Regions from separate parts of the Homo sapiens genome. Here region 2 is linked to region 1. Evidence: fine-mapped expression QTL. A gene starts in region 1. The other region holds a variant in brackets. All regions are shown on one strand. Distances are from middle to middle.

Region 1 (4,520 bases):
AAGATGGAGGTGCTGCTGGTTTAGGTGAGAAAATGTGAGGGGCAGTACATGTCTCTGACGTGGTCTCATTTCAAGGTACTTAGGATGACACTTTCAGTTGGAATCATTTTTAATATTTAAATACAAAAAGTGAGCACTGACTTCTCTTTTTTTAAACACACACACAGGTCTAACAGCCAAAATGTGCAGAGGAAATGAGCTCCTGCTGTCTTCCATAGTCCCCATTCTGTGGCTGAAGCTGCAGCCTGCCTCCCTCCTCTCATACATAGGGATTCATAGTGGCCACTTTACACTACAGGTGTAATGCATTTTGTCTGTTTCACATTGTGTGCATGTCCTGCCCCAACAACTCCATTCTTTAAAAAAAAAAAAAAAAAACAGTCGTTAATGGTCAGGGGCACATCCCTCCCACTGGCATCGGTTCCTACCCCACAAGGGGAAAGTGAGATCTTCCAGTTAGGAGCAATTTGGTGAAAGGAGTCGGGTGACCAGAGCTGGAATAACCATCTGCATGGCTGCACTCTGGTATCAGAGTGGAGACAGAAGTAAGGATAGTGTGGAGGGCACAGTTGCAAGTTGAGTCTTTCCATGAGACAATGTGGGGATAATTCTCCCCACCAGGTTTAGATAGATCAATGTGCCAAAGTTAAAAAAAAAAAAAAATCCAAATTATCAGCAGTTCAAACACTTGAATTTCAAACTTATCCCACTGAGACAGCTCAAACAGCAATAACAATCTAGATCTTTCCAGGAAGTGAGGGTAGAGCCCCTGGCATTCCTCCTGAGAGCCCTGTGTTAGGTCCTAGAAGTATCTGGAAAAGAAAAGGAGGGGTGTAAGGCATCATACAGGCCTAGAGAGCTTATTCTCACCATACCTGATGGGGCCAACGTCTACAAAAATAATACTGAAAGCACAGTCAGACAACTAAAAGAGCATGGGCCCGATCCCAATCCCCACCCACACATTAACTGTTGGTCAACTCAGGTGCTACAACAGGAGCCCTCAACCCCTGGGCTGTGGACTGGCACTGGCCCATGGCCTGTTAGGAGCTGAGCCACACAGCAGTAGATCAGCAGCAGGCAAGTGAGAGAAGCTTCATCTGTGTTTACTGCTGTTCACCATCGCTCACATTACTGCCTGAGCTCCACCTCCTGTCAGATCAGCAGCAGTGTTAGATTCTCATAGGAACACAAACCCTTGTGAACAGTGCATGCGAGGGATCTAGGTTGCAAGCTCCTTATGAAAATCTAATGCCTGATGATCTGTCACTGTCTCCCATCACCCCCAGACAGGACTGTCTAGTTGCAGGAAAACAAGCTCAGGGCTCCCACTCATTCTACGTTATAGAATTATTTCATTATATATTACAATGTAATAATAGAAATTCAGTGCACAATAAATGTAATGCACTTGAATCATCCAGAACCCCCCCCCCGACCCCCGGCCACCCCCAACCCACCATCCATGTAAAAACTGTGTTCCATGAAACCAGTCCCTGGTGCCAAAAAGGTTGGGGACCAATGTGTTAGTGAAATAACTTGCGTCTCCACCACTGGCAAAAAGCCCAAGGTCTGGGCTCACCTGCCGCTGCTGCAGTTGCTGCTGTTGCTCCATTTGCAACTTCTCCGTCTCAAAGACAACGGGAAGAACCAGGATCATAAAGGAAGTGGTCCCAATCCACAAGGCTGCCCTGGAAAACCTGCAGAGGAAAATCCCCAGAGGGTGAGCATGAAGACATGCAAACAAAACAGGCAAGAACTACCCAGTAACCAAACCTCTCACATTACATACTCCAATGTTTTTGATAAACGTATTCTACCCGCTCCTTACACCATACTCCTACCAGAGACAGGAGGAGCAGCTATGGTAGCTGTATCATCTAGTGATGGCGGTTTAACATTCTCCTGAGTTCTTACAAAGCTCCTTATTCATTAATTATCTCCAACAATCTGAAATAACCCCCACAACTCCCCTGCCAGGTAAGAATCCCCATTTTACAGAAGAGGAAACTAAGAAAGGATAGGGTACAAGCCCAAGGTCACCCAACACGGGTCTGCTGCTTCCAAACCCCGTGTTCTTTCACAGCACCACGACCATCCCATGCACGTACCCAGTGCCTTTGCCCTCGTTCCTTACCTGTACATTTTCTGAGCCACAAAGAGGGAAAGATCAAAAGTGGCTCCGGCCGCGGACCGGACCCTCTCCGGAAACATCTCCGTCAGGCCCCATAGTCTCTCCGACAGGGTCTCATCTAGCTGTGGTGGAGTAGACGCGGGTCTTAGCCGAAAAAGCGACATCCATTCCTGGCCCCGCTGCGGCACTGGGAGCCGCCGAGCCCCACTGGAGCTAGGGCACCCAGGGCCCAGCAGGGCCCCTAACCCCGCCTCCCAAAGCAGCCGCTTCGCTCCGATCCCGTACCACGCGGATCCCACACCCACGAGCGGGCCCGCTTCCCGCTCTGCACCCCGCGAGGCCCTAGTACCTCCTCATCGTCGTCCTCCTCCAGCTCCTCCTCAGGCTTCTCCGCGTCGCCTTTCGGGAGCAATTCGTCCGGGGACTGGGGTTCCCCTGCACCGGCAGCAGCGACGGCGGCAGCCATGACTGTAGGGGACACCGGAAGCGGAAAGGAGGTGAGCGCAGCCGAACGGCGGACAGAGCTGCTTTTCCGGGAGCCGAGGCGCGAGCCGGGCGAGAGCGGCGCCCTCTAGCCCCGGGTCCTCCAGTGCCCGCAGCGGGTCCGGCAGCCCTGGCCTTATCCGGGCGTCGGGGCTTCGGCGGGCATTAGCAGCAGCTGAGAGGCCTGTGAGAGGTTCTGGGGCGCCACCGCAGTCATTCTGTTCAGCGGGTATAGGGTGAGCTCAGAAACTTGCTTGTTTTTCTTTTTTTCAAATGCGTTGTTTTAATTCCAGGTAATAGAGTTCAGGGGAGAACAAAGATCAAAGGGCTGACTCTGGCAAGATTCTGGGGGCTTGTTTTACTTTAAGTTCACAGCTAAGGTAGGAGTGGCTGAGTGAAAACAACTCAAGAGATGATGAGCCACTGTATTTTTTTTTTTAACAAAAGTTTATTCTTAAATTTACAACAGGCTCCAAGACAACACTTTATTCGAGCATAGGTGGCCAAAGATGTGGCCGGGAATAGAGATGTTTAAAGACGAATGGAGTCAGGCCCACCATCACCGCAGGCCCAAGGGACAGTGGAACAGGTCGCTTTTTGTAAGATTTTAGCTTTTTGTTGTTGTTGTTGTTGTTGGTTTTGTTTTGAGACGGAGTCTCGCTCTGTCGCCCAGACTGGATGGAGTGCAGTGGTGTGATCCCGGCTCACTGCAAGCTCCGCCTCCCAGGTTCAAGCGATTCTCCTGCCTCAGCATGCACCACCAACCACGCCCCGCTAATTTTTTGTATTTTTAGTAGAGACGGGGTTTCACCATTTGGCTAGGCTGGTTTTGAACTCCTGACCTCAAGTGATCTGCCCGCCTCGGCCTCCCAAAGTGCTGGCATTACAGGCATCAGCCACCGCACCTGGCCTATATATAGTTATATATTATATATAATATATATTTTATGTGTGTGTATATATATACGTATATATGTATATATATGTATATATGTGTATATATGTATATATGTGTATATAGGTATGTGTATATATGTATATATATACATACGTATACATATATACGTATTATGTATATATACATACACACATATACACACACACACACACACACACATACATATATATATAAAGACAGGGTTTCACTGTGTTGCCTAGGCTGGTCTTGAACTCCGAGACTCAAGCAATCCGACTGCCTCAGCCTCCCCAAGTCCTAGGATTACAGGCCTATGCCACTGCGCCCCACCTTGCCGGATTTCTTAATTCGGCCTGTGACCAGGGCCAAAGATTTATCTTCCTTGTCCATCTCCTTGGCCTGCTTCTTGGGCTGTTTTAGAGAGACACTGATCCAGTTTCGTTTTCCTGAGCCATGTTTTACTTGGTAGGAATAAATTAGTGTCTTGCAGGTCTTTTGGGAAAACATCAGGTAAATCTTCCCTATGTACCAAACAAAGGTAAGAGTTAACACCTAAATACCAGGTGCTCTGGTGCCTGTGGGTGTGGGTGGGTGCGGTGTGTCCTCCTTTAATCTTCACAGCAGCTCACTGGGGTAGGCACTGTTATCCCCATTTTAGAAATGAGGAAACTGAGGCATAGTACATAGATTTCTAGTAAGTAGGTGAGCTGGTCAGAAAGTATGCAGATATAAATTTTTGTTTGAGTTTGTGTGTTTGTTTTTGAGATGGAGTCTTGCTCTGTCGCCCAGGCTGGAGTGCAGTGGCATGATCTCAGCTCACTGCAACCTCCTGGGCTCAAGCGATTCTCCCGCCTCAGCCTCCCAAGTAGCTGGGACTACAGGTGTGTGCCACCATGCCTGGCTAACTTTTTGTATTTTTAGTAGAGATGGGATTTCACCATGTCGGCCAGGCTGGTCTAAAACTCGTGACCTCAGGTGATCCACCCG
Region 2 (4,099 bases), 54 kb before region 1:
AGAGCATGTGCCCAAGGCCTTGTCACCCAACAGCACTATCTCCAGTGCCCCCAAGGACTTCGCCATCTTTGTGAGTATCTGTCCTGTGGTGGGGCCAGAGGGGCTGCAGGGGGATCCTGTGGGCCTCTCTACTGAGGATCAAGTCAGGGTCACCCTTGGACTGGAAGGGAGGGGAGTGGATTTGGAAGAGGAGGAGCTAGGGTGGGAGACAGCACTTCAGTCCCTGTTACCTTAGGCTTTGGAGGCAGAAACTGTGGCACAAGAGAGTGAAGTGACTTGTCATAGGCCACTCTGGTGCCTGACCTGCTGGGTGGGAGGAGCAGGGATTGGAGTGGGGAGGGGTGTTCTCCCTGCTCCAGCCCCTCCCCACTTCCCTCCGCTCTCTTTGCAGGGGTTTGACGAAGACCTGCAGCAGGAGGGGACACTCCTTGGCAAGTTCACTTACGATCAGGACGGCGAGCCTATTCAGACGTTTCACTTTCAGGTACGGGATGCTGCTGTGCTAGCAGAAGTGGCGCAGACTCCCCATCCAGGCAGCAGGTGCTCCCTGGGCACTTACCCTGCCAGGCATGGGGTTCAGAGAGGGAAGCCCTGCTCTCCTTTCCCACAGCTCAAGATGTGATATCCAAATGGGGTGTAACACGCATCCTGCAGACGTCAGCACAGGGGAAGGCACCTTCCAGAAGGGCAGCATGAGGGAAGCTTCCTGGAAAAGGACACCAGGAGGTGGGCTTTACACAAGAGGGGTTGGGTGGCCAGGAAAGGAAGGCCGGGAGAGGCGTTCGAGGAGCCGCCGCCAGCACATGCCAGGGCGCGGGCATTCTACCATGGCCAGCTGGAGCCTCAGGCAGTGCATGCGGCTTAAACTTCAGTGGGCATCCGATCTCCTAAGTCAGTTAGAAATGCAGATTCCCAGTCTCCACCCCAGGAGAGTCTGGTTCCTTAGGGCTGACAGGACCCAGGAGCCTGCATTTGAACAAACCATTGGCCTAAGCCCCACACCGGGGGAGTCCTGGAGTGAGGAATTGGGTTGGCGGGATAGTGGGAGGTGGACGAGGGACAGTGGCAGGAAGAGGAGGCCACAGAGAGGCAGGAAATAAGCCCTCAGGGACCTGGGGGAGGCAGTGCTGTGCTTCAGGTGACAAAGCTATGTCCATTTGACTAACATCACTATATGACTCGAAGGGGCGAGCCTGGGCCTGGGAGACCCGTCAGGAAGTGGTTGAGGGAAAGCAGCCAGAACAGGATAGGTGGGGGAGAGGGGCGTTGGGAGTGAGGACAAAGACGTAGCAGGGAGGGTCGTGAATGTCCAGTTGGATGGGGTGGGAGGAAGAAGCCACTGCGATGGGGGCTGATGTGGAGCAGGGGGCAGGTCTGGCTGAGTCTGAGGCACCTATGGAACAGTCCAGTGGAGCTGTCGGGGGAGCCAGAAAGAACTGAGTTGTCATCAGCTCTGAGGAGGTAACTAGGCTGCAAGAGAGGTTGGGATTTCTCTTTAGGAAAGTATAGAGGCCAGACGAGGTGGCTCATGTCTGTAATTCCAGCACTTTGCAAGGCCAAGGCGAGGGGATTGCTTGAGCCCAGGAGTTCAAGACCAGGCTGGTGAACACAGCGAGATCCCGACTCTACAAAAAATGTTAAAAAATTTAGCCGGGTGTGGTGACATGCACCTGTGGTCCCAGCTACTGGGGAGGCTAAGGTGGGAGGATCCCTTGAGCCCAGAAGGTTGAGGCAGTGAACTGTGATCACACCATTGTACTCCAGCCTGGGTGACAGAGCAAGACCCTGTCTCCAAAAACAAAAAAAGAGGGTAGAGGACAGAACGATGTGCCAGAGAGAAGGGACAAGCCAGGAGTGTGCTAGGCCTGTGGCATCTGCCCAGGTAAGATATGCTGCTAACACCATTCCCAACA[C/T]TGTGGCTAGACAGAGGCCCGATGGGCACTGGAGAAAAAGAATCAAGTGTGCCCCACATCAGCATCTATGAAGCCCTCTATGAAGGTGGTTCTATCTGTTGATCACAATAAAAAAACGATTGTGGATGAATTCATTCCGGTTTCAGATGAAGTGTGCTACAGGTGGCCCCTTAACCCACTGGCTGGAAACACTGCTCAGGAGGCTAAAGATAGGAGCTTTTGAAGCCTGGTTCTCTTCAGAGCCCCAGGGAAGGAGCAGGGGAGCCATCTGGCCCTAGGCGAGGCTGTCTCCCCTTCCCACCTTCTCTGTCAGTGAGGCCTCACAGGTCTCTGATGCTCTTAATCCCTTTCTTCTCTACCCAGGCCCCTACGATGGCCACGTACCAGGTGGTGGAGCTGCGGATCCTGACTAACTGGGGCCACCCCGAGTACACCTGCATCTACCGCTTCAGAGTGCATGGGGAGCCCGCCCACTAGCCCTGCTTACTGGTGCCTGCTGCCAGCCATCTGGGAGTGGGTGAACAGCACCCCGCCGCTTCCCCCACACGCTTGCTCGGCGCTCTGACTTCTAGGAGCACAAGAGAGGAGCCTGTGGCCCCATGCAGATGAAAAGGACGGGCAGGGTCTCCTGAGCAGCAGGTGGCTCGAGGCGGTTAGCAGGCTCCAGCAGCTCCCTTCTTCCTTCCCTCTGTGCCCGTGGCGTCTGCTTCCCATCCTGGGAGTGTGTATATATGTAGCATATCATGGGGGACTGGGAAGTTGGGAGAGGTAGGACCTGACTGGTCTTGGCTGGGGTCAGGGGCTGGTGCCTGGGAGCTGATGAAGCAGGTGCCAGGGCTGTGGGAGGGGCAAGCTACGGCCTGGGCTAGGTGAGCTGCCTCTGCCCCTGGGCAAGGAAGCGAGGCCCTCTGGGAGGAGGGTGCTTAGCTCCAGAGCAGGATGGGACTTCCCCAGGCAGGAAGCACTTGATGGAGAGCTGCCCAGCTCTCCTACAAGGTTAGTGCCCTCCACCTAGGGAAGCATGAACCACAGGGTCCCTGAGGGCCTTCGACAAAAGTGTGTATTTGTCCCGGGGAGGGTAGCAGTGGGCCATGGGGCTTCTTGTGCCCTAAAGGGGACTGGCTGCTGTGATCTTCTAAGGGGCCCAGGGCCAACCCTGTAGGCTTCCCCTCTGCTGGGGACGGTAGTTGCTTTTCTCTCTCCTGATGCTAGGTTGGGGCCCACCCTGCTCCCTGTTCCTGCTAGGGCCTGCCAGTGCCCCTGAGCTTGCTTTCCACATTCTCCCAGGGTATGGAGACCTAGACCTGTCTTTGGGGCCATTAGCATCTGGGGTTATAGCAAGAAGAGTGGGGAGCATGGAACTCCTGGGCTCTTGTGGGGACGTTCAGGGTATCGGGGTGCGAGGTCTGTCTGCACCGGCCCCCACATCTAACCAGGCCCTGATGTAGGGGTCGTCCGCTCAGGCTGCCCCCTTGGGCTCTTGCAGCTCTTGTTCAGGTAGTCGCCCTTCTGGTTTGTTCTCTGTGGGGCAGTTGGTGGGGGCTGGGGGAAGAGGCTGGCAGAAGTTACCCTGGATAGGGAAGGGGGAGGAGGGGACTTTTAGAGCCAGCAGGCCCCACTGTATTATGTATATATTTTTCAAGGTCTGTTTTTCTAACTGAAAAGCTAAGGGCTTGATTCCTAGCCCCGTTCTGTGGGGCACTGGGTGATACTCAGTTTCTTGTTCCTGGCCGTGGAGAGGGGCCTGGGGCACTGGTTCCGGCTGTGTCTGGTGGTCTGGCTGCGGGGAAGGGGCAAGAAGGCGGGCAGGCCTTCACTGCAGCACTGAGCCTCAAATCCGCTCTGGAGCATGAGGCTGGATGCAGTGGTGGTGAGGCCGCCCCGCTCCATCCCGAGGCAGCCAGGGTTTGTTTTGCGCTCTCCTGTCACAAATGCTGCACTATTGGTTCTTAAGTTTTTTATCTCCAGATCCTAATTTATGCCTATGCAAAAAATAAATGACGCCCAAGAGCTGTGGGATGTGGCTTTCATGTGGCTTTTGCCTATCACCTAGGGCAGCTGCTCTTGGGCAGATGAGGGAATGAATTCTTGGCCAAACGAATGTCCCCAAAGACTTATTCCTGAAGTTCAGAAACCCACAACTTTCAGCTAAAGCCCAGTTGTGGTGGGGGATGGGACCTGAGGCA

Which allele goes with the higher level. Alleles are on the strand shown, and positions count from the first base shown. SD is a standard deviation of normalised expression in the study named.
In carriers of allele T in region 2, the expression in prefrontal cortex of the gene that starts at base 2,622 in region 1 tends to be lower than with C alone (small effect, 0.30 SD a copy in CommonMind).

Evidence for each region. PIP is the estimated chance that this variant, and not a neighbour inherited with it, causes the effect. A credible set is the group of variants that fine-mapping cannot tell apart.
Region 2: its variant is the best candidate, but not a certain one, in a credible set for the expression of TOMM22 in prefrontal cortex (CommonMind, PIP 0.54).

Annotation. Positions count from the first base shown.
Region 1 is chr22:38,680,059-38,684,578 of GRCh38, reverse strand. It overlaps TOMM22 (translocase of outer mitochondrial membrane 22), which reads right to left and starts at 2,622. Exons shown (of 4, transcript NM_020243.5): 1 at 2,484-2,622; 2 at 2,138-2,256; 3 at 1,583-1,700; 4 at 1-812. The coding sequence starts at 2,600. The coding sequence ends at 738. It overlaps TOMM22-DT (TOMM22 divergent transcript), which reads left to right and starts at 2,723. Exons shown (of 2, transcript XR_007068097.1): 1 at 2,723-2,853. RefSeq lists silencers at 2,279-2,328, 2,719-2,788 and enhancers at 2,519-2,588, 1,635-2,834.
Region 2 is chr22:38,734,558-38,738,656 of GRCh38, reverse strand. It overlaps SUN2 (Sad1 and UNC84 domain containing 2), which reads left to right. Exons shown (of 18, transcript NM_015374.3): 16 at 1-70; 17 at 392-484; 18 at 2,277-3,923. The coding sequence ends at 2,390. It also overlaps a transcript of GTPBP1 not described here. Among named protein-coding and RNA genes, the nearest start is that of SUN2, 19 kb to the left of the region's middle. The variant C/T (reference allele first, on the strand shown) is at 1,914.